Regions from separate parts of the Homo sapiens genome. Here region 2 is linked to region 1. The links come from fine-mapping of genetic effects on gene expression. A gene starts in region 1. The other region holds a variant in brackets. All regions are shown on one strand. Distances are between the middles of the regions.

Region 1 (15,880 bases):
TGTATAAAGGGTATTAAGTGCTGCTCTCTGTTGAACTGTTTGATGAAACTGGCTTTAATGATCCAGAAGCAGCCTTACATTTGAATGCATTCTATTCTTTCAAAACTGCTACAAACCAGTTTTCATGTTTATTACCACTTGCTGCTGCTGGAAAAAAGTTAGGAGCAACTATGTTTTACTCCTTTGATCTTTGAATAACAGCAGCAGCACAAATCCCAGGATTCTCAAAGCAGTTCCAACCACAACAAACCAAAAACTAAACTACAGCGAAATGGGAAACAGGTGTGTCCGGTTTAATAAAAAGGGAAAGGGTCATCAGGTGGCCACAGCCTTTCCTTGTCAGTCATATCCCCAACCTCCAGATCCTTTATACTCTCATAAGTTTGAATACAGTCAAGGTTAGTTGGGTCAAAAACTGATGTTGATTATGATTAAAAAGATACAAAACTCAGCACCTCCTTCATTAAAAATAAAGGTTGAGAAACTTGATAAGAAAAAAACTAAAATATTCTTATAGCTGCCTGGGGGAGATCTTAATCCTTCCACATACAGATATCCTTATATCCACAGGAGGCCATGTGGACTAAAACCAAACTGAGTCCATTACTCATTCCCTCTCCGGCTCTTCTTGTGGCTCTTCTTAGACCTGAAATGGCAACACATATAAATAATTATATTAAGAAGCAGCCAGGCACGGTGGCTCACGCCTGTAATCCCAGCACTTTGGGATGCCAAGGTAGGCAGATCACCTGAGGTCAGGAATTCGAGACCAGCCTGGCCAACATGGTGAAACCCTGTCTCTACTAAAAGTACAAAAATTAGCCGAGCATGGCGGCGGGCACCTGTAATCCCAGCTACTCAGGAGGCTGGGACAGGAGAATTGCTTGAACCCGGGAGGTGGAGGTTGCTGTGAGCCGAGATTGGGCCATTGCACTCCAGCCTCAATGACAGAGTGAGACTCCATCTCAAAAAAAAAAAAGGAGTCCTGAGAAAGACCTTGGTATGCTGACATTGATGGGGATGGAGCTGACACTCAATATTCATTAAACTGCTTGGTATTTTTTTGACTCAGAGCAACACTCTTGAGTCAGGCATTACTATCCAAATTTTACCATTGAGGAAATGACCTCTTAGAGGTTAAGAGTACACCAAACAGGCCCGGCGCGGTGGCTCATGCCTGTAATCCCAGCACTTTGGGAGACCGAGGTGGGCGGATCACAAGGTCAGATTGAGACCATCCTGGCTAAAATGGTGAAACCCCGTCTCTACTAAAAATATAAAAAATTAGCCAAGGGTGGTGGCGGGCACCTGTATTCCCAGCTACTCGAGAAGCTGAGGCAGGAGAATGGCGTGAGCCCAGGAGGTGGAGCTTGCAGTGAGCCGAGATTGCGCCACTGCACTCCAGCCTGGGAGACAGAGCGAGACTCCGTCTCAAAAAAAAAAAAAAAAAAAAAAAAAAAAGAGTGCACCCAACGGTATATGGCACATGGGGGTTTCTAATGAAATCTTATCAAATGAAAGTGACTTGTCCAAGGTCACTCAACTGTTAAGTTTTAAAACTTGGGACTAAACCCCATGTTTTCTGAGACCAAAGCTCATCCATTGTCCAAAGCTGCAATCCTGTAAAGCAAAACAGGTATCAGCTTGAACCCGGGAGGCAGAGGCTGCAGTGAGCCAGGTTCACGCCACTGCACTCCAGCTTGGGAGACAAGCACGAAACTCAGTTCTCAAAAAAGAGAAAAAAGAAAAAGTTATCTAACCCCAGTAATTCTCAAAGCAATAGACCAATTTTGTCTTGTAATGCAGGAGAATTCCTAACATCCCCCAACAAAACAAGAAAATTTCAGGTCCAGTTAGTTGTAATTTGGACTATTTCTGTAAAGTTAAAATAGAGGTCAATTCATTACCTTTCGGGAGACTTTGAGTGGCTCCTGTGTCTGTGACTACGGTGATGACCTGGGGAAGAAAAGGCCATTGCATAAGATCCTACCCTTCTACTCTTATTAAACTGTCATTCTCACCTCCCCTAATACCTGCCATTGGCTTAATATTCTTTTGGCCTATGCAGGGGACACCTCTTAGTGGAAGCAACTCTGAATTAGTGGAGGAAGAGGGAGCAAAGAAAGTAGTAATGAAACCAGTTCAAATACATATACATTCAAGGGCTTTATGACTAATTTCACAAACATCATATTGGGTTTTCACTATTATGTTAGATCTTATTCCTCCAATTTTAGATGAAAAAACTAAAGCAAACCTTATCAGCAAAGCTTATAAGTGACAGTCAAGCTGTGAACCTTAATTTTCAAATTCTATGTCCATTTGCTTTTCTGTTAGGCAGTACAGTCAGGCACTCCTGTACTGCAGGAGGCTAACTACTCCTTTTACATTTCTTTGTTAAGACAACCTGTGGCAAAAGGCCCACAAGCTTTACCTGGGGACTTGGAACGGGATCTGTGCCGCCGATCTCGGGACCTGCTGCGGTGACGTCTTGGACTCTTGCTCCGATGCCTTTCTCGGCGAGGGGAGGGGCTGTAGAAAAGACTGGTCAGACTACCAGATCTGGTTAGCAATATACATATAACACCAATACCACCACCCCCTCCCCAAAGCCCTATCCTTCATCACAAATGACTGAAGGCCTACCTTCTCCTTTTGGGAGATCGACTCCGCCTATAAAGAGGAGAGGAAGAAGAAAGCCTAGGTTGGCGCACTGGATGTGGTAGATTGCAAAAACGGCCCCAATCTTATCCTTCACGCTTCTCTGTATCACCCACCTCTGTATCCATGTCTTTTGTCACGTAACTCTAGCACCCTCCCATTCTAACTTTAGGACTGGTGACATGACTCGCTTTGGCTAATGAGATATTTGCAAATGTGATAAAAGCAGATACTGGAAAAACATTTGCATGACCGGGTTTGTTTGCTCTTGAGTTCTGCCACTACCATGAGAATATGCCCAACTTAGCCTGCTAGAGGATGACACAGAGAAGAGAAATTTCCCCCGTCATCCAAGCTAAGGCAATTCCATACCAGCCAGTAGACAGCCGACAACAGAACAGGTACTTTAAAAACTGCCTATCCAAGCTCTGCTTAAATCATTGACTGCAGACTTGTGAAAGGAACAAATGGTTATTGTTGTCTGCCAATGAGGTTTTATAGGTGGTTGTTTTGCAGCAACAGATAACTAATATATTGGGCAAACATTCTCCATAGACGTGCATTTTTCCTTCTCTAAAATCCAAACTTCTAGGCTACAGTGCTCAAAATCTTCTGGGAAAAGGCCAATGACTAGGCTTTACCTTCTGGGAGACCGGCTCCTACTCCTCCTGTAGCGCAGTGTGGGAGAGCGACGGGGCTTGTCCAAGTCTCGGTAGCTTCTCCGGCGGTGATCAGGTGATGGCACTCTTTCCAACTGGAAACAAGATGATTGGGTCATTGAAAGGCACAGGCTTATAAAGAGCCATCTAGGAACACTAATTATACTTCACGCCCCATCTTGTCCCAAAGTCCATCTCCATGTGACTTTAAAGCACAGTAACCTGACTACAAAGAGGGAAGCACTTACCCTATTAACTAACAAAACTTATTATGAGCTATATAAGACAGCCAAAATGACTCATAGGAGAGGGAACAGAAACAGACCTGTGTGTGTGTATGTGTGTATGTTTAGTTTATCTGCAGCCTGGGCAACATGGTGAAATCCCATCTCTACAAAAAAAATACACAAATTAGCCAGGTATGCTGGCACGTGCCTGTAGTTCCAGCTACTTGGGAGGCTGAGATGGGAAGACTGCTTGAGCCTGGGAGGCCGAGAATGCAGTGAGCCACTGCACCTCAGCCTGGGCAACAGAGCAAGACCCTATCTCAAAAAAAAAAAAAGTTTGCTTCCTGGAACAACTGGGCAGCTTGGTTGTTTTCAACTTTTCAGCACCGTAACTAGTACTGAAAGAACATGACTATGCGGTTGACATTTTCCCCCTCCTAAACAAGGTTTATTCCTTAGGATAGGTGCAATTATGAAAGTGTTCTTTCTTTCCAAGTATTTAATAGCTGCCACCATTTATTAGGCAATTATAATGTGCCAATACTCTGCTAAGGGCTTTAAGTTTATAATCTTATTTAATACTTTTAACAGTCTTGGGGAAAAAAGTATCATTAACCTCACTTTACATAGGAGAAAACTAAATTTAAGTAATTTGCGTAAGATTATACTACTAGTATATGGCAGAGCTGAGGTGCTTTTAATAAGGAAATATTGTTTTTGGCTAGAGTTAGAAAAAAAATTTTTTTTGAGACGGAGTCTCACTTTTGCCCAAGCTGGAGTGCAGTGTTGCGATCTTGGCTCACTGCAACCTCTGCCTCCCGGGTTCAAGCAATTCTGCTGCCTCAGCCTCCTGGGTAGCTAGGATTACAGGCACCCACCACAACGCTGGCTAATTTTTGTATTTTTAGTAGAGACGAGGTTTCACCACCACGTTGGCCAGGCTGGTCTTGAACTCCTGACCGCTGGTCATCCACTCGCCTTGGCCTCCCAAAGTGCTATGATTACAGGCTTGAGCGACCACGCCCGGCCAATAGAGTTAAAAATTAAAGTCTAAAAACAAAAAACCATTCCCATTTTCTATTACTCCCTCCCCTACAACCATAAAAGTCTCAGGTGCCAGACCTTCTCATCCTCCTCTTCTTCCTCTTCACTGGACTCCACATCATCCATGTCCTCTTCCAGAGCACTAACTCGAGGCTCCAGTTGCTCAGCTTCCTCTAATACATAGCGTTTCTACAGAGAAAATGATGAGAGTTAGGGGTTGTTGCCATTTCCCCTATTTCTTGAAACCTCAACACTGGGCTTCAGGGTTCCAAGGAGCAACAGCTGAGGCAATTTCATTTCAAAGACAGTTCAAGATTTTCCTAACAAGTTTAATAGACCTGAAATCTATAAAGTTCTCCTATAAACATAAATACAAACCTGAAGAGAACATCTTCATTTTCTATTGACTCTATTCCCTGTACCTTATACTCTAAAGTCATGGGAATATCAATCAGTATAGGTACAGCCTAGAACCAAAAGTAAGGGCTTCACACACAGAGAAAATCCAAGGGCTAATAAGTTCATGGCTGGTAGTTCCACTAGAAGAGGCCTAGCCCTAGAGTAGTACCAAATCTCCAGTAGACCCAGGATCTCGGGAGCTGTTGATATTCATGCATTTTGAACTGGTTCCATTTTAATCTGGGATATGGCTTAGCAATGTTTATTTGAGTGGCTAAGGATCAGAGAGGCAAAGCTGATTTCAAAAATGCCAAATGGCTAAATGTAGTGGCATGTACCCGTGGTCCCAGCTCCTTGGGAGACTGAGGTAGGAAGATCCCTTGAGCCCAGGAGTTTAAGAACAGCCTGGGCAACACAGCAAGACATTGTCTTGCTATAAGAATTGGGCCCTCAAAGTAGGTTTTCAAATTTATAATCTCATTCTTTCCACTACATGCCCTACAGTGCCAACATGGAACAGGAGAGCTGTATCACACTCATTTCCTGAAAAGATGCCTCATGGATAATCGTTTATCACTAGGAAAGGGAAGCAGGATGGTGAAGGCAAGTTTAAGGAATTAATGGCTCAGTCTCCCACTCCTGGCCCTATTTTTATCTGTTTTATGTCCTGGCTTTTTACATGAAGATTAGTTTAAAAAAAACGTTCATGAAGTTAAAAACTCCCTACCTACTCTAGCTACAATACCCTTGATGTAACATCCTGAATAAATTTCTTTTTTCATGATAGACAGGTAATGTGCTGACTTTGTAACAAGGTTTGAGGGAGGCACAACTCACACATGCACCTGAACTACAAAAGGATGGAGAAAAACAAAGTTTCCTTGTTTTAAACCATTCACTTTTAAAGCCCTACCCTTCAAATATTTTATCTATTTTCCTCTCACTCCCAATCCACTATCTTGGGACTCCCAGACAGGAAGACTATTCATTAAGAGGACCCATAAGATCCACAGGCTTCAGTGTTTAAGCTGTGTGTATGTGTTTGTCTGTCTGCCCGTCTAGGAAGAGAAGGGTGACTCTGGTAACAGACTTTTATTTCTTACCTGTAGTCGGGGCAGAATGATATCACAGACTCTCTCACTGTGCAATAGTTCATCAATAAACTCATCAACATGCATCAATTCAAACTCTGCAAGAAAAAGTCATTAGAGCAAACAACCTGGAAATAAAAGATTTAGATGCCAAAAAGTAAAAGAAGTGTTAAGACTTCATATCAGGACATCTATGTGCTAGGCCTCTTTAGAAGAGATTAAGGGATGAATGAAGATGTCCCAATTAGCAGGAGACAAACACAAAAACAAGCACAAACAGTCCTGAATTATGTAGGGATGATCTTGAAGAGATCATATAACTTAAATATAATTTCTCATCTGAACCTTCAATGTTTCTGAATTTAGAACATGTATCTTATATGGCACATGGAGTGATAGCTTTTGAGAACTGGCTAGGAGTGGTGGCTCACGCCTGTAATCCCAGCACTTTGGGAGGCCAAGGCAGGCAGATCACTTGAGGTTAGGAGTTCAAGACAGGCCTGGCCAACATGGCGAAACCCCATCTCTACTAAAAACACAAAAATTAGCTGGGCATGGTGGTGGGCACATGTAATCCCAGCTACTCAAGAGGCTGAGGCAGGAGAATTATTTGAACCTGGGAGGCAGAGGTTGCAGTGACCTGAGACCACACCACTGCACTCCAGCCTGGGCAACAGAGTGAGACTCCATCTCAAAAAAAAAAAAATTATATGTCTATATATATGTGTGTGTGTGTGTATATATATATATACATCTATATATATATAAAAGTATCATTAACCTCACTTTACATAGGAGAAAACTAAATTTAAGTAATTTGCGTAAGATTATACTACTAGTATATGGCAGAGCTGAGGTGTTTTTAATAAGGAAATATTGTTTTTGGCTAGAGTTAGAAAAAAAATTTTTTTTTGAGACGGAGTCTCACTTTTGCCCAGGCTGGAGTGCAGTGGTGCAATCTTGGCTCACTGCAACCTCCGCCTCCCGGGTTCAAGCAATTCTGCTGCCTCAGCCTCCTGGGTAGCTGGGATTACAGGCAATTTATATTATATATAAATTATGTTATATATAAATTATGTTATATATAAATTATATATGATTATGTATATTTATATATTTGTATGTAAATATAATTATAAAATGTATATATATGTGTGTGTATATACACATATACAAATACATATATATACATACATACATATACATATATAGCTTTTGAGAACTTCCATGGTAAACATTACCTTACTTCTGGGGTTCTCAACCATGGGCAATTTTGCACATGCCCATCCCCCTACTTAGAAGGAGGTGTTACTTCCATCTAGTGGGTAGAGGCTAGAGATACTGCTACTCATTCTATGATGCACAAGCCAATCCTCACACAAAAGTTATATGACCCAAAATGTCAATAGGTTCAGAAATTCTTAGTTTTACGTAATAAAATAATAAATAAATAACTCCATCATGGCCATGACCATGTCCATCTTGTTCACCATGGTATTTACACCACATAGCACAGTATGTGACATGTCAATGGCACTTAATATGTATTTATTCAATGAATGAATCAATAAGTTTAAAGTATAATACCAAATTCTATTTTTTTAAGATGGAGTCTTGCTCTGTCGCCCAGGCTGGAATACAGCGGCGTGATCTCGGCTCACTACAATCTCCGCCTCCTGGTTCAAGGGATTCTCCTGCCTCAGCCTCCTGAGTAGCTGGGATTACAGGTGTGCACCTCCACACCCTGCTAATTACTGTAGTTTTAGTAGATATAGGGTTTCACCATACTGACGAGGCTGGTCTCAAACTCCTGACCTCAAGTGATCTGCCCATGTTGGCCTCCTAAAGTGCTGGGATTAGAGGTGTGAGACACCGTGCTTGGCCCCAAATTCTTAACCTTCTACTGTTTAATGATACATGTAGGGGGAAAGGTAAATGTTCCTATCTTCTGTTATGACACCAAGTGAGAAAAGGTTTTGACTGCATTACCTGGAATCCCTCCTTAGCACATTAAGTAATCTCCTTGTAGAAGGTATGGAGCTGCCTCTCTTGGATATACTTATTTTTCAGTGGGATTCCTGTATAAAAATGAGTAGTCTTATATGCTGCAGTGTGAATTACAGTGTTAGAGGAGAGGCCAGTAGAAAGAACTGTGAAGATGTAAAATATGGAAAACTAATTTTGTCTGAGAGGGCTGGGGAAGGTTTTTATGGAGAAGCCATTCTGCAGCTAGATCTTTTGGGATGGAGCACATGTAAAGGGGGCATATGATGCAAGGCAGGGATTAACATAAGATGCACTTGGAAAGGGAGACAGACAGAGGCAGGCTGGGTAAGGCCAACACGAAGCTAGTAGTCAGACTGAAAACTCCCATGAGGGACAAGGGAAAACCTGCATAGAGACAGTAACAATGTAGATGAAAAGGAGCATTCACACTGTCTATGACAATGCAAAGGTAGAAGTACTGGTAAAATAAAAACTGGCTTAAAAATGACAATCAGGAGACTTAGCACCATACTTACCCCCATTTCGGTTCTGGCTCTTGATTTTTCGATAGTCATTGTACAAAGGTTCCAAGTACTTGTAGCAATCAATTGCAGTGCCTGTCAGCCTCATGTAAAGTGCCCCCAGCATGCGGACATACCTGAGAGACAGATGACAGTGAAACAACAGGCCATCCTAGAAGTTCCTGAGTTTTACAACTAGCTGTTCTCATGACAGTAGTGGATAAACATGTTCTTCTCTTTGGCAGGTAAGAAAGCTGCAATTGTGGAGGTAGAATGCAGCAGAAGAAAGACAGCTAAAATATGGAGACCTGAGTTCAAGTTCCCATGCTACCATTTATGGCTGTGGGAACATCATACATATTGATCAACTTTCAAATATATCATCAGTAAAACTAGAATAAAACCTATTTACCTCACAGGATTACTCTAAGAATCAAAAGAAATACTGAATTTTATTTTATTTTTTAAGGCAGAGTCTTGCTCTGTTGCCCAGGCTGCAGTGCAGTGGCACGATCTTGGCTCACTGCAACCTCCGCCTCCTGGGATCAAGCAATTCTCATGCCTCAGCCTCCATGTAGCGAGGATTACAGGCGCCCGCCACCATGCCCAGCTAATTTTTGTATTTTTATTTATGTATTTATTTATTTCTTGAGACAGAATCTTGCTCTGTTGCCCAGGCTGGAGTGCAGTGGCACGATCTCAATTCACTGCAGCCTCCACCTCCTGGGTTCAAGCGATTCTCCTGCCTCAGCCTCCCAAGTAGCTGGGATTATAGGCATGTGCCAACACACCCAGCCTAATTTTTGTATTTTTAGTAGGGACCGGTTTTGCCATGTTGGCCAGGCTAGTCTCAAACTCCTGACCTCAGGTGATCTGCCTGCCTTGGCCTCCCAAAGTGCTGGGATTACAGGTGTTAGCAACCATGCCTGGCATATTTTTGTATTTTTAGTAGAGACGGGGTTTCCCCATGTTGGCCAGGCTGGTCTTGAACTCCTGACCTCAAGCAATCCACCTGCCTTGGCCTCCCAAAGTGCTGGGATTACAGGTGTGAGCCACCACACCTGGCCATATATTGAATTTTAAAACAGAAAGAAGATATATTTAATAACAATACAAGAACAAGTACACATAAACATGACTGCTGGTTTTGGAAAAAAGTAAGTCATCTGGGTTCAAATTCTGACTCCGTAATTTACTAAGTCTGTGACACTACTGGTCAAATCATGTGTTTTCTCAATCCTTGTAAAACGGAGATAATGCTACCTAATTTATGGCTTGGTATATAAACAAGAAATGCATTGAAAGTGCTAAGTATAGCACAGAGCACACAGTAAGTGCCTAACAAAAGTTAGGTATTTTCTAGCTGTTAATGCTTTATTAGAGTCGTTCCAGCCAGGGGCGGTGGCTCACGCCTCTAATCCCAGCACTTTGGGAGGCGAGGCAGGTGGGTCACCGGGTCAGGAGATCGGGACCATCCTGGCTAACGCGGTGAAATGCCGTCTCTAGTAAAAATACAAAAAATTAGCCGGGTGTAGTGGTGGGCGCCTGTAGTCCCAGCTACTTGGGAGGCTGAGGCAGGAGAATGGCATGAACCCAGGAGGCCGAGCTTGCAGTGAGCCGAGACTGCGCCACTGCACTCCAGCCTGGGCAACAGAGCGAGACTCTGTCTCAAACAAAAAAAAGAGTTGTTCCTCTTCCCTTTTTCCTATATCTAACTACTTAAATTTCCTCTTGGGTAACTAGGAGGCTTTTGAAAGTCATAGTTTCTTTGTACGAGAAGCAGAATACTGTAGCAAAGAATATGAACTCTGAAGCCAGATTTGCCACTTACTAGCTGTTTGAACTTGGGCAAAATTAATTAATCTCTGTGCCTCAGTTTCCTCTCCTGTAGAATAGGGATTAAAAGTTTAGAAGGTTGTTGTGAAAGTGAAATGAATTATTATATGCAAAGCCCTTACAGCATGGCACATAAGAAGCTATTATGTCTGTCTCCTATACTTGTTTGTGATTTCCTCGAGAATCGGTAATACGGTAATAAGCTGACATTTTCTAGGTGTTTACCATGCAGCAAGTGCTGTGTTCAGAGATCTGCATGCATTACGTTCTTTCACTCTTATATTATAGTCACCATTTTACAGATAAGCAAAGTTTAGAAAATTAAGTAACCTCTCCAATGTCATAGTTAATGGGCAACAGAATCTGGATGTGAACCCAGATCTTACACCTCTTAACCACCACCTTTTGTTGTTTGATTTTCACCCCTGAGCGTCCAGTGCCTACCAACATATCAGGCACTCACTTTTGCTTAATATGTATTTAGTGAATCTGTGAAATCCTTTTTCAGGGAAAAATTACCAAAACTGAGAAAGTAAAGTAGAAGATTAATACAATCAGAACAGATAAAATACAAACTTGGCAGGGTGTGGTGGCTCATGCCTGTAATCCCAGCACTCTGGGAGGCCCGGGGGGGGAGGGGATTACCTGAAGTCTGGAGTTCGAGACCAGCCTGGCCAACATGGTGAAACCCCATCTCTACTAAAAATACAAAAATTAGCCAGGCGTGATGGCACATGCCTGTAATCCCAGCTACTCGGGAGGCTGAGACAGGAGAATCACTTGAACCCAGGAAATGGGGGTTGCAGTGGGCCGAGATCGCACCACTGCACTCCAGCCTGGGCAACACAGAGAGACTCTGTTTCCAAAACAAAAAACAAACAAAAAATACAAACTCAAGGGCTCAAAAGCAAAAATCTGGAGTGGAACTCTCTAGAAATGAGATACATTGTGTACACCCCTCTTAACCAAAGCCCAATTCTAAACCGCCAAAATTAAACCTCTTATATTAGCTAGTGAACATTGCACTCACTTGAAATCTTCATTTTTGATAAACTCTACAATGATATCCTTCTCGGGTTGAATTTGAAGCATCTTCAAGGTTAAACACAGAAAGGGTGTTGGTTTTATGTTGCCACCATAGACGCCACCCACAAACCTTAACTCCATGGCTTTATCGACTACAAGTTCAGCTAAAAAACAAAAACAATACAGTAACATATTAGGGCTAAGCTCTTCCTAGTTGGAGTGGAGTTAGTTCAAGCTTTGGTTCTCCTAAATATACATCAACAGTGTAATATTAGGAGAACGAATGTGTATTAATAACAGTAACGACAACAGCTAATATACATTGAGAATGGATAATAAAATAGGTACCCTGCTAAGCTTTTCATATTATCTCACTTAACCTTTTTTAACAAGTCATGAAGAAAGTTCTAGCAATGTTCTTATTTCCAGGTAAGGAAAATGAGGGCTAAGAAAGGTAAAGTGACTTGCTCAAGGTCCACAGATTGTCACAGGACATGGATTTAAAGCCACAATTCAAATCGGAAGATTACCTGGAAGACTTCTCTGAAGCACTGATATTTATAAATACTGGAACCGGCCCAGATCTAAGAATAGTAAGATCATGAATTTGGTTTCAGGCATATTAACGTTAGGTCCTTAAAGACCTTCAACAGATTGTGTCAAAGTGTTATATCCGGATCCCTGAGCTTAACACTGTTGCAACCCAGCCTGCTATCATTAAATACGGAATAACTCACAACACCCAACTGAGACAGCCTTCAGAATATGACCTTACCAGATTCATCTGTGCCTCTAATACTCAACACAAGACGAGGCACTTAGCAGGCACTCAAAATTTTTCTGAATGATCGACATACTCCGTTCCAGTACCACCCCCAGAGGCCAGTCGCTAGTCCTACCCGCGCTCGGTCAGGAGAAATGGGCCACAAGGGGGCTGAGAGGCGCTCCGCGCGCTTCCACTTACCTGTAAGTCCAAAGCACTCCTCTTTCCAGTACTTGGACTCATAGATTCGCGTTCGAATGATCTTCTCCACCAGATATTGAGGGTTGGTGCCATGGATGCTGTGCGCATCCTTCACTGTACGGTTAGCCATTTTAGAATGCCTTCAATTCTATTTCCGTCGGATCCTTTAATGCCTCACATCCAGGTTCAGAAAAAGCACCTAGAGGAATGGAGAAAGGTGGAAGAAGTTTCACTAAACAGCTTAGGCGACCATCTTGAAGCCGGAAACACCGTAGTGTAAAGGGCTTCCGCTCCCCGCGTCGCCTATCGAATCAATGATGGCGGCTGCATGTTAGCGGATGTACGTCATGCGCCCCTCTTAGGTGTACGGAGTGGGCGGGGCGAGCTAGTTGGTGTCGCAACGAAGGGACGGTCTGGGGGCGGGGCCACGCCGATTGGCGCGAAGTTTTCTTTTCTCCTTCCACCTTCTTTTCATTTCTAGTGAGACACACGCTTTGGTCCTGGCTTTCGGCCCGTAGTTGTAGAAGGAGCCCTGCTGGTGCAGGTTAGAGGTGCCGCATCCCCCGGAGCTCTCGAAGTGGAGGCGGTAGGAAACGGAGGGCTTGCGGCTAGCCGGAGGAAGCTTTGGAGCCGGGTGAGTGTGGCGTCCAGCGGGCTGCGAGGGACTCGGGGGAGGGCGCATCGGAACCTCTGAAACTGAGGACGTTCTCTGTAGACTCAGTCATTGATTCTTTTAGCTGACATGTACCAAGCGCCTGTTCAGTGCCAGGCACTGTTCTGAACTGTTAAGAGCGTTCCTCTGTTCCACACTCCGATTCCTAAAAGGCTTCCCGCGCTGCAGGGAACTGAGTTTGCAGGGGGGAAGGCGGAAGCCAACAGCCTAGAAGCAGGAGCATTCCTGCCCTCCGCACCCTGATGCTCAGTGATGACTTTCCCTCCATCTGCATTTGTAAAGCACTCTACTTGTTTCGTTCTTTGAGCTATAGTGTAGGAACCACTACAGGGAAGGCGGAGCAGAGGTTATTACCCCATTTTACGGACGTAAATTGCGCCCAGGGAGGGACGTGTCTTAGGTCGCTTTTCGTGACTAAGCAGTCTGGGCTCCTACCCAGATCTTTTTTTCAGATGAGCTCCTAACTGCTGGGCTGTCTGTCATTCACCTTCTTTTCAGAAGAGAAGTCTGGTGGCCCCCTTCCTACTTCTCTTTTCTAACCCCGGAATTGAAGAGTCTTCTGCTGTGACAGTTGGAAAAGGCATTCTTATCCTGATCTATTTGTGAAACTGCAATGATTATATACGATTCTAGTTGTCTGTAACACATGAATAATAGTACCCTCGTCTCTGCTGTGTTAGGTGGGCTGGAAATGCCAAAGGAGTTTCCAATATGACAGAATGGTTTAAGTCCCTTTGCAACAGTTTTTAACTTTAATGGAGGGCAATATGTGGACTTTAGGAGGTTTGTGAATCTGCCGAAATTGAATGCAAAATTTTGCTTGAATTATGTTAGTTCCATAGTATTCATCAAATGATACTTAATAAATAAAACCACTGTACCTTACAAATAAATGCAAGGGATTAAGGTAGTGGGAAAGTGGATTTACCATTTTGCATTTTTTCACTTAATCTTCCATTATCCTAAAATAGTGCCTGGCACACGATGGGTACTTAATAAATATTGGTTGAATAAACGGAAGATTCTATTTTCTCCATTTTGTGGGTAAGCAAATTGAGGCCCAATCCACAATGTTCAGTCAGTGGCTGGGAAGCCTGATTTATTGTAATAAGTACACCAAAAGCAAGCTCTCAGTTACATATTAACATTATCCAGTTTCACACAGTGTGTTGTAAGGTGAAGTAGTTAAGAGCACAGTAATTGCAGTCTGGCTTTTCCGGGTTTGAGTTAAGGCTGTGCCATCCTGTATAAGATAGGATAAGTTATCACCTTGAAGTGATAATAACATCTACTTTTCTTTTTTTTATTTTGAGACAGAGTTCTGCTCTGTCACCCAGACTAGAGTGCAGTGTTGCGATCTCGGCTCACTGCAGCCTCCACCTCCCGGGTTCAAGTGATTTGCCTGCCACCATGCCCACCTGATTTTTGTATTTTTAGTAGAGACGGGGTTTCACCATGTTGGCCAGGCTGGTCCCGAACTCCTGACCTCAGGTGATCCACCCACCTCAGCCTCTCAAAATGCTGGGATTACAGGCGTGAGCCACTGCGCCCAGCCTTTGTATTTCTGTTTTATCCTTGTGTGCATTTTATAAGCGTCATGAAGACATTTACAACCCCTGTATCACTGTCTTTTAATTTCACTTTGTTAGATGTTTTACACCTATTGTTCTGCCTTATTCCTAGTATTTCTAAATGTTACAGTTTCATTTCTTAGGAATTGACCTTTCTGTTTTCCTGGATGGAAAGAGATACGGCATAGTACAAGATGGACACAGATGATACTAAATTGCCTGTGTGTAATCTTCGTAGACCATGACTTCAAATAAAATGTTTTCTTAGTCTAAAATGTATGGGAGTGTAGCAGGGGCAGAAAATAAGTCTGATCTCATTTGAAGGGAGGGACTGACTATGTCTTAGAATCCATCAGATAAATACCAAATATTTATCATGGTAACTCAGAGTTTGGACTCTTCCACAGAAGCCATGGCACACTACCCCACAAGGCTGAAGACCAGAAAAACTTATTCATGGGTTGGCAGGCCCTTGTTGGATCGAAAACTGCACTACCAAACCTATAGGTGAGTGATGGGGTCCTTTGGTTGTCCTGGAAATACAGCTTCTCAAGCTAAACAGTCAACTTGTATCTAGCCTGTTCTAATTACTACAGATTGACCATGAATGAACAGGAGATTAGAACTGATTGTAAGGAGGGTTTTGTTTGATGCAAGAAGATGGTGGGATAAATATAGCAGTTAGTGATGGAGCAAAATTATGGCAGGCTCATAAAATTTTGTATGTAGGATAATGTCATGTCTATTTAAGGTGAGTTCTATATAACTTTTGATGAAAACGAGATGATAGATGTTTTTACTATGTCTTTCCCAGCCCTGGAGATCTCTGACAATTTGACATTGTTACTGGGCAGCTTGACAGCCTTGGGAAACATTTGTTGTGGGAAGCATTTGTTGTTCTTTGTCAATAACTGAGAGGAATTAGGGTTCCTAATAAGACCTTTGGATTCATTACTCAGCTAAAACAATTCATTCAACCCATTTTGCCTATTCTTAAATATAACTGGGCGAATTGGTTTCCCAGTAGGAGAGTTGGTCAGCAGAAAGAAATCAGGATTGGAGAGCCCTCTCCTTTGTGCCCAGGGGATCTGAAGAGCTTGACCCACTTTAAGTTATTTCCTAATGTGCTTCTCTGTTACTTCCTAGAGAAATGTGTGTGAAAACAGAAGGTTGTTCCACCGAGATTCACATCCAGATTGGACAGTTTGTGTTGATTGAAGGG
Region 2 (12,212 bases), 760 kb before region 1:
CTCTGCGCCAGACAAGTGCTCAGCAACTTGAGATTATGAAATGACTAATTTCACGAGCCATGAGTTACTAAGCAAGATACTTATACCCTGAGCCAATGATGATACGATATGATACGATAGTACCTGCCCCAAAGGTGGTTGCAGGGCGAGCACATGCGCAGCACAGGGCAAATGCTAGAGGAGCAGTATTTGGTAGTATTACTTGATGTAATAAAGGAAGAAAGTAGTAAATAGAAAATATGAAGGAGCACTGGGAAGGGAACAATGAACTAGCTCTGGACAGAGCATGGAGGTGGCAGTAGATACCACTGAGTAGGGAGACGGTATTCAGCTGCAGGATGAGATGTTTCCTGGTGAAGAGGCACAAGGTAGCAAAGGGAAGAACATGCATAAAATAAAGACGTTCCCTCCCTCTGCAAAGAGCCTTCACCAGGGCTTCTTTCCTCCCCTCTGTGGCCAGGACGTGGTTGCACTTAATCCGTTTCCAAGCCTCTCTTTCCCTTAGATTCTGAGCTCTTTGAAACCTGGGACTGCGTGTTCCGCCCTTAGCACAGGGTTGTACACAGTCAGCCCTTATTAGAGATTTTTGGTGAATGAAATACAAGAGGTATAAAGGAGCATGGGCTCTACAAGTAGTGGGGAAGGGTTTGCATGCCTGATGCATAGAGCAAATGCTGGGAACGAGAGGGATGAATGCTGAGAGTTAGACCGTCAACTGTCCCATGCTATTGGCTGGGGATTTCCATGGATGGCTCGGATTAAGGAGTAGCAGTAAGAGAGAGAGTAAATGTGGGAAGTGGGAAGGGTTGGCCACTACACAGATTGATGGGGACGGAAGCTGGAGGAAGAAGTCAAGGATAACACTTTGCTCCATCCTGAACTGGCTTCCTGCTCTTGAATAATTCGCCATGTCTGCCAAGAGGGCACAAACATTCATTCGAATGAGGCCCCACACATTCTGCTGGAATTGATTGGCTCCCATCTTGGCAGGGGAACAGAGCCAACAGGATGTGTACCTATACCTAGAAAAAGAAAGGTCTATTTTAAGGAATTGGCTCATGTGATTGTGGAGGTGCAAGTCCAAAGTCTGCAGGACAGGCCAGCAGCTGGAGACCCAGGGAAGAGCTGCAGATCGAGCCCACAGTCAGCCTGCTGGCATCATTCTTCTTGCTTAGGGGAGGTCAGTCTTTGTTCTTCAGCTTATTAGATGACACTCGCCCACGTCATGGAAGGCAATCTGGTTGACTCAGAATCCACCCATTTAAATGTTAATGTCTTCCAAAAAACACTTTGACAGAAACATCCAGAAAAATGTTAGAATGTTTAACCAAAGATCTAGGCACCATGGCCCAGCCAAGCTGACATATAAAATTAACCATCACAGACAGCACTCTAAGAATTCAGCCATGTCCCTCACACGGACAGTCAGTTCATCTGCAGCTGATCTGCAAGCGTGCTTTCTCTCTCTCTCTCTCTGATATCTCTATACCCCAACAGAGTCACTATAGGGAAAATTCCTGATGTGGGGGTGGTTACTCCCATGCTGTTCTTGTGATAGTGAGTGATTTCTCACGAGATCTAATGGTTTTATAAGGGGCTTTCCCCCCTTGCTTGGCACTTCTTCCTGCCACCCTGTGAAGAAGGTGCCTGCTTCTCCTTTGCCTTCTGCCATGATTGTTAAGTTTCCTGAGGCCTTCCCAGCAATGCAGAACTGAGTCAATTAAAGCTTTTTCCTGGCTGGGCGCTGTGGCTCACGCCTGTAATCCCAGCACTTTGGGAGGCTGAGGCAGGCCGATCACGCGAGAACAGGAATTCAAGACCAGCCTGACCAACATGGTGAAACCCTGTCACTACTAAAAATACAAAAATTAGCCGGGCATGGTGGCATGCACCTGTAATCCCAGCTACTCAGGAGGCTTAGGCAGGAGAATTGCTTGAACCTGGGAGGTGGAGCCGAGATCGTGCCACTGCACTCCAGCCTGGGGGATAGAGCGAGACTCTGCCTCCAAAAAAAAAAAAAAAAAAAAAAAACCCCACCTTTTTCCTTTATAAATTACCAGTCTCAGGTATTTCTTCATAGCAGTGTGAAAACGGACTAACACACCATCTCCAGCCCTGTTTTGCCCACATGAGCCATGCCACCCCATTTATCGTTCTCCTCACATTCCCAGAGTCAGACACATCTGTAAGGCAGCAACTCACGAAAACTCCTGAGAGTATGCAGGGAGCAAATCCTCTCCACTCCTGGGTCCCCTCAAGTTCCAGGGGAACATTAACCTGTGTCTCCTTGGCCAGGGATGGAAGGGCAGGGGCAGGGAGCCGACGGTATTGTTCAAATGGTGTGTTTTGAAGAGAATTAAATACAGAGATTATTTATGAAGGTGTGGGCAGGGTGCGGGGAAACCCATGTCCAGTGCAGTATCCCTGAGCTAGCTAGTAACGTAGGTGCTGTTACCACCCGCAGCCGCCATGACCAGAGCCATAGGACCTTGGCAGAAGGAAGCCCCGGAATAAATACCCACCCTCACTTTCCTCCTGCCTTCTTTGTCCTGTTACTGTTCCCCATGATCTGAATCCAACCAGAGGCACTGGTCAGAGAGGCCCATTGATGTGTTTATAGCTCAACTTCCCGGGGCAGAGAGCCGAGTGGAGAGGGTGAAGAGGGAATGTGGAAGGCGATCCTGAAGCTATCTAGCCAGGCAGGGTAGAGGTCCCTTCACACTCACATCTGGAGCTCTTACTCCTTCTCCAAAACCTCCCACCTGTCTCCAGCTCAGAGCCGAGCATGATGACAGGGGACGGGGAACTTGTTCTGCCTTTTCATTTCCTCCTTGAAATATCTTCTTTCTTATACCTGTAGGCCTAGACCAGGCAGCTTGTCCTTCAGAGCTGAGTATTTGCCATCTGTTTCAAGCTGGCCCATTTCTGGCATCTACCCCTGGGGCAAACGGTGGCCTCCAGGTCAGCCATCTCAAGTGTGTGTGTGTGTGTGTGTGTGTGTGCGCGCGCGCGCGTGCGCGTGCGTGCGTGCTTGTAGGTGAGTGTGTGTTAGAGTGTGTGTGAGTGTGTGTGAGTGATAGTGTGTGTGAGTGTGTGTATATGAGAGAGGAGGAGAGGAGAGGAGAGGGGAAGGGAGGGGAGGGGAGGAGAGGGGAGAGGACAGGGAGGGGAGGGGAGAGGAAGCAGGAGGAGAGGAGAGGGAGGGGAGAGGAGGAGAGGGAGGGGAGAGGAGGAGAGGGAGGGGAGAGGAGGAGAGGGAGGGGAGAGGAGGAGAGGGAGGGGAGGAGAGGAGAGGGAGGGGAGGGGAGAGGGAGGGGAGGGGAGGAGAGGGGAGAGGAGAGGGAGGGGAGGGGAGAGGAAGCAGGGGGAGAGGAGAGGGAGCATTTTGGTAAACTTCTAAAATAACGAATCCCTGAAAATGGTGAATTTTTACTGAATATTTCCTGTGTACCAAGCACAGCACAGCTCCTTTAGTCCTCCCCTATCTCCTTCAGTGATGTTGTGTTTTTCCTAATTTACAGATGAGGAAACTGAGACTTCAAGGGTCCAAATATCTTAGTGTTCTTGAGCCAAAGGTGCTGAGTGAAGGAGACATGGTCCCTGCCCTTGAGGAGCTGGCAGTCTTTCTGGGGAGACAGATGGTGAGCAGGTGAGCAGATGCACGGTGTGGTAAGTGCTGTCACGGATGGGTGAGACACCATTCGGTGCACAGAGGAGGAAGTGATTTTATACCAGGGGTGTGTCCATGAGGACGTCAGAAAAGAGGGGACATTTGTGTTTAGGCTTAAAGTCTTATTTGGGTCACTAGATGGACCTAGAGGGCACTCCAGGCAATGGGAAGAGCGTGCAAAGACACAGACAAAAAAGGGCATGGTGTTCTGGGAAAATGGTGAGAATTCCATTGTGGATGGAGCAAGGGAAAGAGGGAGGAGGGGAGGAAAAGCCGAGGGATGGAGGCAAGGAGAACAGTCTTGGCTTTTATGTTAAAATAAATTCTCATGGCAGAATTCTTGCTGATGTGCAAATTCAAAATTTTATTCAAAACATAGGCTCTGTAGTGATCAACCAAAGACCCACACTGGAAGTGTTAAGTAAATTTCATCTGTTCAGTCTGTCCAAACACAGCTATAAAAAGAGCTAAACAGGGCTTGAAAAGGATGTTTTGAATACTTAAAAAAAAAAAGTGGAGTCAGAAGAGCATTTTGCATTTTCTAGGAAGATTGACTACTCTGTGTTTTAGGAGCAGTGCCTGCCACTATGCATGGTTAACTGAGCTGGAGGACCCTGTGCTTCCCGCACCTCACAGGCGGAGCAGCCTCTCAGGAACCCCTTCCGAGGCTTCCACCTGTGGGCATGCTGCTTTCTCATCACTGCTGCTGCTGACCTTTCTCCCCAGCAACTACCAAAAGCCCTTTTATCCACAGTCTAAACAACCAAGAGAATCAAGGAACCCCACAGAAGGAGGATGAGAGCAGTCTGTACTCAATTTTATGATCAGTAAATAATAAGAAGACAAGCTCCTGCTGGGCACTTAGTTCAACAGCAGCTCCCAGGTTGCATGTAGCCCCACCACCAGCATTGTTCGACTTCTGCATCTTTTGTGTGGCTCGCCCTGTTCTGGGCACTCAAGACATTTCACAACAATATCTGCAAAATTATAACATGTCATCTGCATTTTTAAGATGCATTATGGACCAGGCGTGGTGCTGGGAGTGCTTTGGGAGGCTGAGGTGGGAGGATCACTTGAGGCCAGGCGATCCAGTCAAGCCCAGGCAACAGAAGAAGACCCCATCTCTACAAATTTTTTTTTAAATCAGCTGGGTGTGGTGGCACAAGCCTGCAGTCCCAGCTATTTGGGAGGCTGAGGAAAGATGATCACTTGAGTCCAGGAGTTGGAGGCCACAGTGAGCTAGGATCATGCCACTACACTATAGCATGGATGACAGAGAGAAACTCCTTATTTAAAACAAACAAACTGACAAAACAAAAGGGAAGCATGATGGTGTGCCAGGTAGGGGTCTATTTGAAGGCATTTAGACTGGATTCAGCCAGTCAAGAAGTTCAATTAACCAGAAAATTTCATTTTCCAAAGAATCAGAATAACCAGGAGTTCATTGGAATCTCCCTGAAGGTCCTCCTGGATTTATTCCCACAGACTTACCCTACGAGCTTGGAGCTGCAGCAACATTCTTCACTTCCAGGAGGCGCAGGGACCCCTGGCATCATGGTGCTCTCTGGTCTTCAGGGATGGGGATGTGTGCGGCAGCTCAGGCTTAGGCCTCCTCAGATGCACAGGCTGCTTGTAACAAGGGCCCAGCAATGGGTGCCGGAGGCCGAAACCTGTGCACATTCTTTTGTCTGAAAGTCATAATCAGCCAGGCATGCAAAGATGTTGTTCGTAGGGGATTTATTCCAGCCGTGTATATTAGAGCAAAAAATCAGAAACAAACTAAATTTCCAACCCTCAAGGAATAGTCAACTACATTGTGGAACAGTCAGGTAATGTACTATAAAGCAGCCACTAAAAAAGGCATTGGGAAAATTTAATTATTCATCTGAAAAGATGTTCATAATAGATTAAGTTAAAAAGCAGTATATACAATAGCTAGAACATAGACACAATCCAAATGTCCATTGACAGGTGAATGGGTAAGCAAAATGTGATCTATACATACAGTGGAATATTATTCAGACTTAAAAAGGAAGGAAATTCTTTTGTTTTTTTAGACAAGGTCTTATTCTGTCACCCAGGATAGAGTGCAGTGGTGTGATCTTGGCTCACTGCAGCCTCAGCCTCCCAGGCTCAAGTTATTCTCCCACCTCAGTCTCCTAAATAGCTGAGACCACAAGTGTGCCACCACACCCAGCTAATTTTTGTGGGCTTTGTAGAGATGGGGTTTCAGCATGTTGCCCAGGCTGGTCTCAAACTCTTGGACTCAAGGGATCCTCCTACCTTGGCCTTCCGAAGTGGTAGAATTAACAGAAGTGAACCACCATGCCTGGACTCTTTTTTTTTTTTTTTTTAATTAAGAGACAGGTTCTCACTCTGTCACCCAAGCTGGGGTGCAGTGGCGCGATCATAATTCTCTGCAGCCTAAAAGGAAGGAAATCCTGATATATGCTACCGCATGGGCGAACGTTGAGGACATTGTGCTAAGTGAAATATGTCAGCCACATAAGGACAAATATTTTATGATTCTACTTATATGAAGTACGTAGAGTGGTGGCATTCAGAGAAAGTAGAATGATGGTTGCCAGGGGCTGGGAGGAGGGAAAATGGGGAGTTATTGTTTAATAGATGCAGAGTTTCCATTGGAGAATATTTTTAAAGTTCTGGGCCGGGCACGGTGGCTCACACCTGTAATCCCAGCACTTTGGGAGGCTGAGGTAGGTGGATCACTTGAGGTCAGGAGTTCGAAACCAGCCTGGCCAACATGGTGAAACCCCATCTCTACTAAAAATACAAAAATTAACCAGCCGTGGTGGTGCACACCTGTAATCCCAGCTGCTTGGGAGGCTGAGGCAGGACAATCGCTTGAACCAGGGAGGTGGAGGTTGCAGTGGGCCAAGATTGTGCCATTGCACTCCAGCCTGGGCAACAAAGTGAGACTTTGTCTCAAAAGAAAATACAAAAATAAAAAAATAAAAATAAAGTTCTGGAGATGGATGATGGTGATCGTTGCATAACAATTTGAATGCACTCAGTGCCACAGAACTGCATGCTTAAAAATGGATAAAATTGTAAATTGTAAATTTTATGAGAAAGTATTTTTTTTTAATTTCACAATGTATTTTTTTTCTTTGAGACGAAGTCTCGCTCTCTTGCCCAGGCTGGAGTGCAATGAATGGCATGATCTCGGCTCACTGCAACCTCCGCCTCCCGGGTTCAAGTGATTCTCCTGCCTTAGCCTCCTGAGTAGCTGGAATTACAGGCATGCACCACAACACCCCACTAATTTTTGTATTTTTTAGTAGAGACGGGGTTTCACCATGTTGGCCAGGCTGGTTTCGAACTCCTGACCTCAGGTGATTCAACTGCTGCGGCCCCCCAAACTGCTGGGATTACAGGTGTGAGCCACCACGCCTGGCCCACAATGAATTTTTTAAATTGGCAATGATTGTATATATTTACAGGGTACAATGGAATTTTTTGATATATGTATACATTACAGAATAATTAAATCAACCTAATTAAAATATCCATCATGTCACATATTTGCATGTGTGTAGTGTGATTTGATTTTTTATTTTGATTTTTATTAGTGATGGGTACACTAGAATCCCAATCCCCACCATATTGAGCTTTGCCAAAATATTGAACATTGCACACAATAGGGAATTTGTCAGCCCACCCCCACTTTGTAGTTCCTGCTGTCTGTTTTCTCCACCTGTATGTCCATGTGTACCCATTGTTATCTCCCATGTATAACTGAGAACATGGAATATTTGACTTTCTGCTTGTCAGTTAGGTGTAGGGAAAAGAAAGAGAGATCAGACTGTTACTGTGTCTATGTAGAAAGGAAAGACATAAGAGACTCCATTTTGAAAAAGACCTGTATTTTAAACAATTGCTTTGCTGAGATGTTAATTTGTAGCTTTGCCCCAGCCACTTTGCCCCAACCTGGAGCTCACAAAAACACGTGTTGTATGAAATCAAGGTTTAAGGGATCTAGGGCTGTGCAGGATGTGCCTTGTTAACAAAATGTTTACAAGCAATATGCTTGGTAAAAGTCATCGCCGTTCTCTAGTCTCAATAAACCAGGGGAACAGTGCACTGCGGAAAGCCGCAGGGACCTCTGCCCTTGAAAGTGGGGTATTGTCCAAGGTTTCTCCCCATGTGATAGTCTGAAATATGGCCTCATGGGATGAGAAAGACCTGACTGTCCCCCAGCCCGACACCCGTAAAGGGTCTGTGCTGAGATGAATTAATAAAAGAGGAAAGCCTCTTGCAGTTGAGATAGAGGAAGGCCACTGTCTCCTGCCTGCCCCTGGGAACTGAATGTCTTGGTATAAAACCCGATTGTACATTTGTTCAATTCTGACATGAGAGAAAAACCGCCCTATGGTGGGAGGCGAGACATGTTTGCAGCAATGCTGCCTTGTTATTCTTTACTCCACTGAGATGTTTGGGTGGAGAGAAACATAAATCTGGCCTACGTGCACGTCCAA[T/G]CATAGTACCTTCCCTTGAACTTAATGATGACATAGATTCTATTGCTCACGTGTTTGTTGCTGACTTTCTCCTTATTATCACCCTGCCCTCCTACTACATTCCTTTTTACTGAAATAATGAAGATAATAATCAATAAAAACTGAGGGAACTCAGAGACCGGTGCCGGTGCAGGTCCTTGGTATGCTGAGCGCCGGTCCCTTGGGCCCACTGTTGTTTCTCTGTACTTTGTCTCTGTGTCTTCTTTCTTTTCTAAGTCTCTTATCCCACCTGACTAGAAATACCCACAGGTGTGGAGGGGCAGGCCACCCCTTCACTTAGGATAATGGCCTCCAGTTCCATCCATGTTGCTACAAAGGACATGATTTCATTCTTTTCATGCTGCATAGTATTCCACGGTGTATGTGTACTATATTTTCTTTATCCAGTCAACCACTGGTAGACACTTGGGTTGGTTCCATGATTTTGCTAATTTTCTGTAATGTATATTTTACCACAACAGAAAAGAAAAAAACCAATATGTATGTTTCTGCAAAACAAAAAATTTAGACATAGAAAAATATTTGGGAATATAAACTAAAAAGTTATTTCTCAGGGTTGGATTACGGGGAATTTTCTTTTTTTTTTTCTGAGATGGAGTTTTGTTCTTGTTGCCCAGGCTGGAGTGCAATGGTGCAATCTCAGCTCACCACAACCTCCACCTCCCGGGTTCAAGTGATTCTCCTGCCTCAGCCTCCTGAGTAGCTGGGATTACAGGCATGCACCACCACGCCCAGCTAATTTTTTGTATTTTTAGTAGAAATGGGGTTTTGCTGTGTTGGCCAGCCTGGTCTCAAATTCCTGACCTCAGGCAGTCCACCTGCCTTTGCCTTCCACAGTGCTGGGATTACAGGTGTGAGCCACCGCACCTGGCCTATGGGGTATTTACATTTTTCTTAGTTTTTGACAATGAACATGTATTACTTGCAGCATTCACTTTCTTCATTGAAGGAGATAGGGCAAGATAGGCACAAACTGACTCGGCCTGTCCCCTAATGGGCAGTGGTTGGAAGGAAGAGTGCAGCACCACCTGCATGTGTCAAAACAATCTTCATTACTGGGCAGATACTGATTATCCCTGATGGGACCCCACCTGCCTGGACAGAGAGCCCACACCCATTCTTCCACCTTCACTCATGTGGACACTCAGACAACAGCAAGTCCATGGAGAACCACAGAAGCTGTGAAGTTTCCAGATCTCTCATGAGTCTCACTACTGCCTTGCGCTTTTTCTATCCATTCTCTCCCTTATTCACCTGGACAACATTAGTTCATCGAAACTCAGCCCAGCTGACACCTCCCCCGGGAAGACTTCCCTTACCCTCCGAGCTATGTCTAGAGTCCCGAGCTGTCTCTGTGCAGTACATATCCCACAGACTGAGCTCCTGGAGGCAGGGCCAGAGCTCAGCAGCTGTGCAGCCTCGGTGCCCAGCCCAACGCCCAGCCCAGGCAGGAGCTCGGGTTGGCTGAACTGAACAGAAACTATCTTGTTCCTGAGATGTAGCTAGTTTCTTGATAGAGGTCATCCAGTGCTAGCAGCTCAGTTTCCAACTCCATTTTGAGAATTATGGCCAATAATTTGTTTTCCTAAAGCAAAAAGGAGGTGAATCATAAATCCGAGTGGTTTTTGTTTGGCGGACTTTTTCTTTCTTTCTTTTTTTGTCCTTTTTGAGACAGGGTCTTGCTCTGTCACCCAGGCCAGAGTGCAGTGGTACAATCACAGCTCACTGCAGCCTTGACTTCCCTTATTCAATGTTTAGCCTTTAATGCAAATATCACAAGTGGGTCATTGATTATTTTTAAGGGGAAAGGTAACTTTTTGGCAAGCGACTCATGTCCACACACACCCCATATTTGAATTTCATTTGTCAGTGATTCTTACCTGGACTTGAGCTGCTCAAGAGCTGGGAGCCCACCCACTGCATGCCACGTAGTAGGTCTTCGCCCGTGTGCCAATCATTAGAGACACTGGAGCCCTGAAAGCTGCCGATGTTGCCCTGTTGCCATTGGCTTTCACTCTTTCTTGTGCTCTTGCCACATGCCAGGCATTGTTGCAGGTGCTGAGGAGGCAGCAGGGAACAAATCCTACAAAACACGAGCCCACCCCTCCCACCAAACAACACTTACAAACTCTTACCAGAAGCTGGGCCCCATAGACTCACCCATTTTAAAGAAGAGAAAGAGAGAAAGGAAGGAAAGCCTGCACTGCAGGACTCTGGAACAAGTGTGGATTAGGACCCAGAAGTCTTCAGTTTATTTTGAGCTTTCTGGCTGTGTGACTTTGGGAAATCTACTTGACCTGTCACTACCTCAATTTCCTTATTCATAAAATAGGAATAATGACAATATCTGATAAGATTGAGAGAATTAAATTAAACATGTAAAGTGCTTAGAATAATGCCTGGCACATGGTAAACAGCCAGTACAAATTACTATTTATTGCGGTTGCTGTTATTACTAACCCAGAGTAGGTCCTGTAACATCTCAGCTTTAGTTTCTTCTCCTGTAAAGGGAACAATACTAACACCTCCCTCATAGGTAAAAGTCTAATGAGATGAAGCAGGTGAAAGCACTTTATCAACTGGGGTTATAAACTAGGTACTCACAGCCTCCAGCAGCAAGCCACTCAGGGAATCCAGGGAGATAAGGGGTAGGAGGCAGAAGGTGTCCAGGAGTCATGGGGTTTGGGATCAGGAACAAGCAGCTGACTCTCAGCTCCAGCAGTTGTGGTCATGCAGATGTTTCCAATGAAGCCACAAATCCAGATTTTTATGTAAGATCCCTAGTTTTTAAATGTTGGCAATTAAGCCAAGTTTTTGTAAGTCACTTTGAGTGCCAATCAATACAAAGGTGCCGCCAATTCGTGACCTGTTATAAACTTTTACAACTATTACTTAATAAACCAAGGGGGTAAACTACGAACGTAGCTGATGCAATAACTCAACTGAAAAGCCGAAAAATAACTAACATTTCATTCTCCCAGTGGCCCTAAGAGACAGGCATTAGCATCCCCATTTTACAGATGAGGAAACTGACCAGAGATGGAAGGTCACAGAATTGCTGAATGGCCAATGGGGCTGGATGCTGTGACTCTGTGACTCCCTAACCCAGTCTTTTTTCACTCTGACTATGCAGCATGATTGCAGCACAGTGTCCTGAGCCCTCAGGCCCCACAACTTCACTGCAGAACTAAAATGCAGGGGAGCCAGCATCCAGACTCATTGTCCTGCCCTGCTCCACAGCGGGAAAAACCTACATGAAGACCATTAACCGCAACACCAATTTATTTTATTTTTTTGAGACAAGGTCTTGCTCTGTCACCCAGGTTGGAGTGCAGTGGCACAATTACAACTCACCACAGGCTTGACCTCCTGGGCTCAAGAGATCCTCCTGCCTCAGCCTTCCAGGAAGCTGGGACTACAGATGTGCACCACCATGCCCAGCTAATTTTTTGATTTTTTGTAGGGATGGGGTCTCACTGTGTTACCTAGGCTGGTCTTAAACTTCTGAGCTCAAGCAATCCCCCTACCTCAACCTTGCAAAGTGCTGGGATTACAAGCATCAGCCACCATGTCTGCTGTGGGTTTTTGTGTTCCATCATTCAACATCTGAATTGCTCCTTGCCTAAAAGAGCTGCTAGGCCATTAAGGTGTCTTTTCAGCAAGGCTTCCAGATCTGTAGGCAACTGAAAGAGAAAAGAGAGGGAAAGGATGTTAGGGTCTCCAGATCAAAAAGAGCCTCAGAACCAGCCCCCAAAGCAATGTACAAAAATGCAGCAGGGTCTATATACTAATATACTCACTTTATATGCACAATCCAAACCATAAGTCTCTACATAGCTGTGGTTTAGACCAGGGGCTCCCATCACCCTCAACTCAATGCGGGGCCCCACCCCCAAACAATTCACTCAGAACTGGGGATTTGATGGGGATATGGGTATGTTTTAAAAGCTCTCCAGTGACTTACCAAGATCACTGATCTACTGAAGACTAAGAGAATTCATTCA

Evidence for each region. PIP is the estimated chance that this variant, and not a neighbour inherited with it, causes the effect.
Region 2: its variant is fine-mapped to the expression of PRPF38A in lymphoblastoid cells (GTEx, PIP 0.98).

What each region holds. Positions count from the first base shown.
Region 1 is chr1:52,401,414-52,417,293 of GRCh38, reverse strand. It overlaps PRPF38A (pre-mRNA processing factor 38A), which reads right to left and starts at 12,692. Exons shown (of 10, transcript NM_032864.4): 1 at 12,415-12,692; 2 at 11,455-11,614; 3 at 8,604-8,725; 4 at 6,094-6,179; 5 at 4,670-4,780; 6 at 3,303-3,415; 7 at 2,647-2,673; 8 at 2,435-2,532; 9 at 1,908-1,956; 10 at 1-646. The coding sequence starts at 12,544. The coding sequence ends at 604. It overlaps ORC1 (origin recognition complex subunit 1), which reads left to right and starts at 12,871. Exons shown (of 17, transcript NM_004153.4): 1 at 12,871-13,048; 2 at 15,066-15,165; 3 at 15,805-15,880. The coding sequence starts at 15,071. It also overlaps the pseudogene LOC124904850. RefSeq lists a silencer at 143-437 and an enhancer at 12,173-13,372.
Region 2 is chr1:53,164,508-53,176,719 of GRCh38, reverse strand. No RefSeq gene overlaps it. Among named protein-coding and RNA genes, the nearest start is that of CPT2, 26 kb to the left of the region's middle. The variant T/G (reference allele first, on the strand shown) is at 8,170.